Linked DNA regions of Homo sapiens. The protein of the gene in region 3 purifies or fractionates together with the protein of the main gene of each other region. This does not show direct contact. Each region holds a gene or a part of one and is shown on either strand. Other genes may lie near its edges.

What was found.
Region 1: the proteins of NRXN2 (region 3) and CBLN4 purify together in Homo sapiens (co-immunoprecipitation; one large-scale study listed by IntAct). This does not show direct contact.
Region 2: the proteins of NRXN2 (region 3) and LRRTM4 purify together in Homo sapiens (co-immunoprecipitation; one large-scale study listed by IntAct). This does not show direct contact.

The regions. Positions count from the first base shown.
Region 1 is NC_000020.11:55,999,572-56,002,564, reverse strand, and holds part of CBLN4 (cerebellin-4 precursor), read left to right. Parts: intron 1-1,717; coding exon 1,718-1,834; intron 1,835-2,993. UniProt on the Homo sapiens protein: Acts as a synaptic organizer in specific subsets of neurons in the brain. Essential for the formation and maintenance of inhibitory GABAergic synapses.
Region 2 is NC_000002.12:76,749,377-76,753,038, reverse strand, and holds part of LRRTM4 (leucine-rich repeat transmembrane neuronal protein 4 isoform a precursor), read left to right. Parts: intron 1-3,662. UniProt on the Homo sapiens protein: May play a role in the development and maintenance of the vertebrate nervous system. Exhibits strong synaptogenic activity, restricted to excitatory presynaptic differentiation.
Region 3 is NC_000011.10:64,605,646-64,608,331, reverse strand, and holds the end of NRXN2 (neurexin-2-beta isoform alpha-1 precursor), read left to right. Parts: intron 1-249; coding exon 250-1,136; 3' UTR 1,137-2,158; downstream 2,159-2,686. UniProt on the Homo sapiens protein: Neuronal cell surface protein that may be involved in cell recognition and cell adhesion.

The DNA.
Region 1 (2,993 bases), on a different chromosome or scaffold from region 3:
TTTCAATGACCTTTCCATCAATTAGAAGAGGAAAAGGGTTTGTTCTTCTTTTCAGTGAGCCTTGCATCTTAGAGACAAGAACACACATTTGGTTATAAATCTCGATGTACCTGGATGCTCCAATTACAGTGTAGAGTCAACATCCAGTTTTATATGTAGCCAACACTAATCAGCTATTTTCATTATTGCTAATGAATTATGCTACTTGTATCTGAATCAGGAAGTCACCACTAAGCACCTCAAATTATTTTAATTGTGCTTGAAAAATTTCTTTGTAAAGCCTCTGCTGGGGATTATTGCACAGCTGGTGACTTGTTGAAAGACCATCTATCATCAGGTTACAAAAAAAATCTGATGCTTACTTGGAAGAAGGCGAAATCTCAGAATGAAATTATACACGTACATGTGTTTTAAGTTAGGTGTTGAGCCTGATACATCTGCTTGACTGTCACTACATTCTGGTATGTTGCCCAGAGGTAATAGTACATTTTTAGGGAATTATGCAAGAGGCTTGCAAGTGTGTTAATATTGGCAAGAATGCAGTGTTCGAAAGAGATAGTAGCAGATTGCCATTGATATATGAGAAGTATATCTTTTTAGGGACCTCTTATTATTTTTGAATGCCACTTACAGGTGTATTTCTTGGAAAGAAATGGAACAAACCCTGGTTATTTTAACATCCATCCTCCATCCCAATCCCTCTTTCTCATAGAAAGAGACTTACCCATGTGACATTGCAAATTTAGCTTAAGAGGTCACTTATTAAAATTTAGAGTTAATTTTATAACCAATAGAACTAGGCTGAATATTTTGGAATACAAAATGCATTGTTGCTTTCTTGGGAAACAGTATCTAATTTCACTTTTGAACCTTGAACTTCAAATAAAGAGCAGGTGATTGATAGGAGGTTAATGGACAGCCCGGGGAGGAACAGGGAAAGCCACCTATTTCATAGTTTAGCCTTCTCTATGCTCTCCTCTTTGGCAGCCCACAAGGGCTGACTCATTGCCACATTATTATAATTAAGGCCTAGCTGGCACAGGAATGAAAAAAAAAATGGTAACAGATCTTAGGAGAGGGGTGGTGGTGGCTCAGAGAAGGGCCAGGCATTCAGATCACTTTGTGCACCAACTGTTCAGTGTCAAGGATTATGTCACATGGTGGAGGGGGTACCCATGCCTCTGTGGTTTGTCCAGGGATGCTGCGGAGAGCTCACAGATGCTGATTGGCTGGCTTGGAAACGTCACCTCTGGACATTGCAAAGGCTTGTAGAAGGTGGGAATGTAAACACATAGCGGGTGCCTTTTATCCAACTCTCAAGGTAAAGCTAATATTTATAAGTTCTCAAATGTTAGCTCGATGTTTCCAGAGCCATTGGGCCTTGCTGGAAATTGAGACATGAATACAAAGCAGTTACTTTATTTATTCTTATATCATTTAAAAGACAGAAGAACCTTCCAGTATTCCAGTCAATTTTCCAAATCAGTTAAGAGGAAAGATACAGAACTAGATGTTTTATTTTCTATGATTTCTTAAGCTAGTTGCCAAGAATGAATGAATGAACAAAAGAAAAAAGAAAAGAAAGAAAGAGGAAGGAAGGAATGAAGGAAGGAGGGAAAGAAGGAAGAGGAGAGGAAGAGAGTGAGAGGAAGAAAATTCATTTTAGTTACAGAAGAAAATATAATAACTTATTGTTATTTATTATTTTTATTTGTAGATCCTGGTGAATGTGGGTAATTTTTTCACATTGGAGTCTGTCTTTGTAGCACCAAGAAAAGGAATTTACAGTTTCAGTTTTCACGTGATTAAAGTCTACCAGAGCCAAACTATCCAGGTGTGTGTTTTGACCTCTTCCATCCATACTCTCAACCAACTGTGCTTATCTTTAGTGGGTTATATATTTAAGTACTTATCCAAAGTTGTGTTTCCACAATAGAAATAAGCAGCCATCTTTATCATTTATTTTAAAACACTTAATTTCTAATTTTTTTCTCTTTAACATCCATTAAGACGTGACAAAAAGCGTATAGAAAAATAGAGAATTGAAGTTATTACCTTAATAACAATCAAACATTTTTTAAAAATCCATGGTTGAGTAAAAATTCAGTGACACAAATCTCTTTGTAAGATCATGCTTTCATTTAATGCATGTACAAGAATTACTTGAACTCATAAGAAAAAAACTTGTAAGACTAGTACAGCTTTACAAGTGCATACTAAATAAATAAAACACATTTGCTATTTTTTAAAATTATGAGATACAGCTAATCAGTAAGAATAAGTCTATGAAGGAGGAACTATTCAAAATACATTTTTAAAAAACGGTGTTCTATGCGTATGCTTGTGTTTATCCTCAGTTACTCTGATGCTAGTGAATTCTTACCAACTGCAGTTCCACAGTTAATATATTTTGTGTTCTGCTTTCTAAGACAATGGGCTTGACCTTACATTCAAAAGCAACAGTGGAGCTTGTTCCAACAATATTCCAGTATGCTAATACTAAATGACACAAATACATGTGCATGGAATTCTAAGATAACCTTTTATCTTATGCTCAGTATTTATGTTATACATTATGTCAATATGAATGATAGATTACATGCTTATCTATTAATACTTTTACATGTCCTAGTAAATGGATAAATGGATCAGCCTCAGATTTAATTTATTCCATATGACTTTTAACCTAAAAAAATCTAGAAAACAAACTTACTTCCATGGAAAAGTTTTCCCAACCCCCAATATTTAGAAATGTATGCAATGCTTGACACAGTGTAATCAAAATTGAAGAATAGAAAATAGTTAATACAGTTTTGAGTTGATTCTAATTATCTGTCACTGAAATCTCTAAAATTTAAAATCTAAATCTAAAATCACTAAAATCACTAAAATCAGTGATAGTGGTGATTATTATTTTTTATTTTTTGGTTTTTCTCTGAGATAGGGTCTCACTCTTTCACCCAGGCTGGAATGCAGTGGCATAACCATAGCTC
Region 2 (3,662 bases), on a different chromosome or scaffold from region 3:
AGAATATATTTCTCTATGTGATTTTTAAATTCTGTGCTCCACATCCATTATCTGTAAATAAAGTGCAGCTTCCAATGCAGTCAATGAGCAGTCAAGTGTTCTAACGAGGACATCTTTAAATAGTGTTGTTCTGCTGTGCTATAGAGTGGAGCTCATCAGAGAGCTGATGGAACACAGAACCATTTGGAGAGGCTCTGAGAACACATTTACAAAAATACCAAATCTGAATTAAGCAAAACTTAAGAATACTTTGTTTTGACTACTGGAAAGGAAACAATGACACACACAGGGACCCAGGTGGTTAATGTACTGTACACTATTACTGTAAAGTACAAGACCTCAGCCTCTGAGCTCCTCAGAAACCACGAATTCAGTTGATTACATAGTGCCCTATAGAATACACTTGAAGAGTAAAAGAGCAAATATTTCAGATACTCTTTCAAAGCTTGCCAATGCACTTGGCTTTTGAATTCTTGCTATTGGTCTGCTGTGCAGGAGGGAACTTTACAATGGTTTTTACTCTCCAAGAGGTTTTAAGCCTGCCTCAATTACAATAGAGAAAATGACATGAGCCCTCTTTTAAGTGCTGTAAAAAAATAAACTGCAATTGTAATAGCAAAACAAATTTTCTCAGTTCAGAAATGGTGTAATATGTAAACGTAAAGCTTTGCAGTTAATGCAGGTCCCTTGACTTTTAAGTCAACTTAATTCAAAGACAAATACCATGATTTCTTAGCTATGAAATTGTTATCTCCCACTATAGTTTAAATTAAAAGGCTTTAAGTAAACATTGCAAATTCAACAATGTTCACTTATGAGCTACTTATTTTCATCTGTAGATTCACCTGGTTGTGCAAAAAGATCCCTAAGGCCCTGATTTCATCTCACATTCACTGTTCTATACATGTTTGTGAATTCAAGTATCTCTTCTTTGTGAAGACCATTGACAGAGCTACAAGACGGTGAACAAAACCACAACCCATGTTTAATGTTCATGTTGATGTCTTTTAGTAATTTGGCTAATTTGTAGAAAATTAGTCATGTATTTAAGTTAAAGTGTAGAATAAATGTTCTATAATCAGTGAATGTTGTTTCCATTTGGAAATAATTTGCTGAATTTTTATGTGATTTTCAAATTATGTTACTTCACCAGTTAACAAGAGAGTACGAATGGGCTGTATTACTCTTAGGAAATCCCTTTTGAAAGCATTCTTCCCACTGAAATGTCAGCACAAAGTGTCTTCTTACATTTCGATGCTTTCTTGGAGTATAAGTGACCCATGGCACCAATCCCACATATCTCCAGGAATCTGACACCCTGAAAAATCCTATGAGGTTTCCTAAAATAGGTCCCGCTGGCAAACATTTTACGTCTGAACCTGTACTGATTGAAAGAGGTCTCATTGAATAAGATATAATAAAAACAAAACAAAACAATAGACTTGGGGTGAGGGAGATTAGAGCTAACTTTTATTTAGTATCTAGTAATTCGGCCATGTCACTTTACAGTCTGTTCCTAGCTCTCTCTGTCAGCACAGAAATTAAGGTCCAATTTTTAAAATATCACTATCAATCACAACTCTGACCTAGTATGTATTTTTTGCAATTCTCCTTTTTACAGAATAGAATGGCATATTCAAGATTTTATCAATAGCTTGTTTGATGAGAAATACTCTTGTTACTATTTTGTAAAAGACTTCCTGAAAATAGTTTTTACCTTCCTTTAGAGGTAAAACAACAACAAATCAGAAACAAAGCATTACATATTGATTTAATTTTCCAACTCATTGTGAAAAACAGTGAATTATACAAGTTAATAGAAGTGAATAGTAAAAACAGAATGGGAATTTATCTAGGCTATTGCCAGTCACTGTAAAATAAATTGTAATCTGAATATGTGCTTTGATCAAGTATTTTTTCAAAAACATGGTCTACCATGATTCCCAATTTTCAAACTTCAAAATGTGTCCCAGTACACACATTGATATGCACATACATAAATTTAAAACAAAACTCTTATGAACAACTTATCTTTATACTCTGATACTTTCTATTCTAGCTAATTTAATTTTTTAAATGCTTATTTGGATTCACAAAATTGATTTCATAACCTACTAATGAGTTGCATTTGCGCATAGAAAACATTGCTTTAATCTAAGACTTAAAAACTGTGAGGAGGTGACTTTCCCCTTAATAAGCAGAGAGGTGTTAAAAACATAATTCTCATAAGAATAGAGAGGGAATTTGTGTCAACGTTGTATTAATCACATTAATAAAAATACCAGCAAGAAAATACTAGAGCTAGTTTTAAGAGCATTTGAGGAACTTGCATAGTAAACAGACGAATGACATCTAAAAATAAGTTTGCTGAATTATATTTAAGACTGGTTAACTCCCTGCAGTATAGGGAGCCATAAGACCTCTGGTGGTTAACTCTAGTAAATTATAAAATCAAAACAACTTAATTTCTGCACTTTTAGATACAGAAGGATTCAAACATAGTCCAGTCGGGAGACTGACAAAATATCAGTTATTTTAAGAAAGAAATTTTAGAAAGAATGCTAACTGGATATAGAGTTATTAACCAAGTTTATGCAAAGGCTAAGATATTGCTGTGGTATCACAGAAACAGCAATGTTAGGAAGTAGCTACCACCCCTACAACTTACAGGGCTGAGGGAACGAAAGGAAGATCATTAAGACTTAAAAGCTTGGAGGAGAAGCTTTGTGGTGATGAACCTCAAATCTCTCTGGTGCTAGTGCTGGTGTCTCTGAGGAGGGCTTGATGAGATCAAATGTTGGATATACTGCAAATGTTGGAAATACTACAAAGAGGCAGCACCTGCTGCTGTGGGAATAAATTGATATAGCCAGAATGAAGACATGCCATTAGGATAAATTCCTGGAGGAGGAAGAAACAAAACAGGAAACCAACAATGGGAGCAATTCCCTCTCCCTGCCAAGTCTTGCCATCTCCCTCCATTGGCAAAGCCTAACAGGAAACCACAAATAAAACAGATATGTGGTTTGCAAAGTCCAAACCTCAGCATCCTAAAAGCAACCACAGAAGGGAACTTAGAGCTGAGAGTCAATAGTTTAAAACCTGCCACAACATCTAACCTTACAGGGCAATGGAGCCTTTGCACTTTTCTCATCTGTGGATTGTTCATCAAGAGTGTCAAATTGTAACTCGCAAGTATGAGAAATATTCTAGCATGAGAACAACAAGTAAGCAAGTATCATTTGCTTTTTCCTAAATTTGGAATATATTTATCTTTATCAGAAATTTATGGCTTAATTAAAAGCTCCACCAAAATTCAAAATTATTATAACTGATATTTTCTGCTTTTTATATTAAATGAATTTCTGCAGACCATTATTCAGGTCTGTTACGCTAACATTAGACACATATTTGGCTTGTTACCTTGAAAACCAATAATAACATTACATATTATGAACATAAAGATGTGCCTTCTCCCATGATTCCAGAGTTCTTTGGTCCAGTATTGATATGTGATAGAGTGTTAGAATTAATCTATAGGAAATTGTGATTATTTTTTAAAACTAAATAAAAGTTACACATGATGATAGTAAAGATTTCAATTGTGTATAGGTATCAAATAAAAAGTTACATATATGTTTATATATATAAATAAAAGTGTA
Region 3 (2,686 bases):
ACAAACAAAAGACCAAAACCCAGAGAGTCACAGAGCCCGTGCGTGGGGTGCCCAGGGCATCTGAGCCGCTGCCCGCTTAAAGCGCAGTGCTCGGCCGGCTGGCGGGCGGGCCCAGCCCGCTCTAGTCTCCGCCAAAGCCAATTGGAACCGATTTGGGTGTGTGAGGCTGTTGTTTCTCTCTCTGTGCCGGCCGCCTGCGCCCTGGCCCTCGCTGACGCCCTCTCTTTTCTCTTCTCTCTCTTGTTCTAGGAGGAGAGTTAATATTGCCCATTATCACGGAGGACTCCTTAGACCCCCCTCCCGTGGCCACCCGATCCCCCTTCGTGCCCCCGCCCCCTACCTTCTACCCCTTCCTCACGGGAGTGGGCGCCACCCAAGACACGCTGCCCCCGCCCGCCGCGCGCCGCCCGCCCTCTGGGGGCCCGTGCCAGGCCGAGCGGGACGACAGCGACTGCGAGGAGCCCATCGAGGCCTCGGGCTTCGCCTCCGGGGAGGTCTTTGACTCCAGCCTCCCCCCCACGGACGACGAGGACTTTTACACCACCTTTCCCCTGGTCACGGACCGCACCACCCTCCTGTCACCCCGCAAACCCGCTCCCCGGCCCAACCTCAGGACAGATGGGGCCACGGGCGCCCCTGGGGTGCTGTTTGCCCCCTCCGCCCCGGCCCCCAACCTGCCGGCGGGCAAAATGAACCACCGAGACCCGCTTCAGCCCTTGCTGGAGAACCCGCCCTTGGGGCCCGGGGCCCCCACGTCCTTTGAGCCGCGGAGGCCCCCTCCCCTGCGCCCCGGCGTGACCTCAGCCCCCGGCTTCCCCCATCTGCCCACAGCCAACCCCACAGGGCCTGGGGAGCGGGGCCCGCCGGGCGCAGTGGAGGTGATCCGGGAGTCCAGCAGCACCACGGGCATGGTGGTGGGCATTGTGGCGGCGGCGGCGCTCTGCATCCTCATCCTCCTCTACGCCATGTATAAGTACCGCAATCGTGATGAGGGCTCCTACCAGGTGGACCAGAGCCGAAACTACATCAGTAACTCGGCCCAGAGCAATGGGGCGGTGGTGAAAGAGAAGGCCCCGGCTGCCCCCAAGACGCCCAGCAAGGCCAAGAAGAACAAAGACAAGGAGTATTATGTCTGAGCCCCCGGCACTGCGCCCCACTGCCAGCTGCCCCTCCTGGGAGGGCCCGGGAGGAGGGTGCCACCCTCTCCCTGCCAGGGGCCTGGGGACCCTCTCCCTGGCTGCCTCAGGCTTCTCTTACGAAGAGGAAACGCAAAAAAAGAAAAGGAAAAACCCCGTGCTCGCCCCCTTCCTCCTGCCGTCCACTGCGCGGCCTCGTCAGTCCCGGGGCTGACTGTCCCTCTCAGCTCTGCGCCTGCCAGGCAGGGCACGTGCTCACAGCCCTGGGTTGATTTATTTTTTTAAGGGGGTAGTTTTATTTTGGTGGGGTTGGGTGGGAAGGAAGGCTGGGGGTTTTGTAAAGTGTCCACTGCTCGTCCTGTTAATTTTCCTCAATTTTTCTTCTTCTTCCTTCTGTCCCTCCTGCCTTCCTTCTCTTCCCAAGCCCTCCAATCCCCATCCCAGGCTTGCTGTGTCTCACTGTCCCCACCCTCCTTCCCTACTTCTTTTTTTGTGTGTCTGGTTTCTCCCTTCCTTTCCTCCCTTTGGGTTTCCAGAGTCGGTGGGAGAAGGGCGGGAGGGTGGGCCCGAGTGGCCCAGTGGGTGGGTGGGGTGGGGTGGGGCAAGTGCCCCAACTCCCCTCACCAGGAGAGGCACCTGCTTGGTGCCGCCCAGGGAAGGGGCTCAGGCCTGACGGAAGGCCTGTTCTGTGTGTGCCGCCGGGCGACGTGCATTGATGGGGAAGCTGCTGGAGGAGCAGGGGTGGGGGGTGGGAGGGAGGGGAAAGGCAAATGCAGATATATATTACAGACAAATACTCTAGATTCCACGAGCAGCAGCCTGTGGCACCCGCTGGGCGCGGGCAGCAGGGAAGAGGGAGCAAGGCATTGTCCACAGACTGCTGGGGTCACTTCTTTGCCCACGGGCTCCCTGCTCCCCCAGTTTTTTTTCTCTCTTTGTTAACAAATGTGTCTGAGTCTTGGAAAACACCCCAACCCCGGAAATGTGTGGGAAAAAGAAAACAAAAACTTTCCAAATTCCAACGGTCCTGTGCAGTTTTTTTGGGGGTGGGTGCTGTTAGATCCTGGCTTTTGGCTGGGGTCTGGGCCCACATGGGGGCCCACAAGAGCTGGTAAGTTGCTCCCGAACTTTTGGGTTGAGTGTGGCTTTGGGTTCCTGGGATAACTTGTCTTTGTCTCACAGTGTCCTGTATCCCTGCTGGGCTGAGGAACGGGCGGGAAACATGGCTGGTCTCTGGCCGGTTCACAGACCTTAGCTTCTCAGAAAGGCAGACAGATCCCTGGAGACCTTGTGTTGCCCCCTGATGGCTACTGGATCCACACCTCGGGGCATGTGTGCCCGGGCACAGACCTGGGTGCGGGACAGATGCTGCCTCATCCTTCAGCAGCCCTTGGAGGGAGGAGGTCATTCCTGGGCTTGGAGACCTTCAGTGGCTGCTCCCAGGTCTCGAGGTGAATGAGTGACTGAGTCCCAGTGGTCTCCTGCTCTGCCTGACTCTAGAGTCTGTGCTCCTTCCCCTTCCTCTCTAGGGATTTGGACCCTGGTACCCT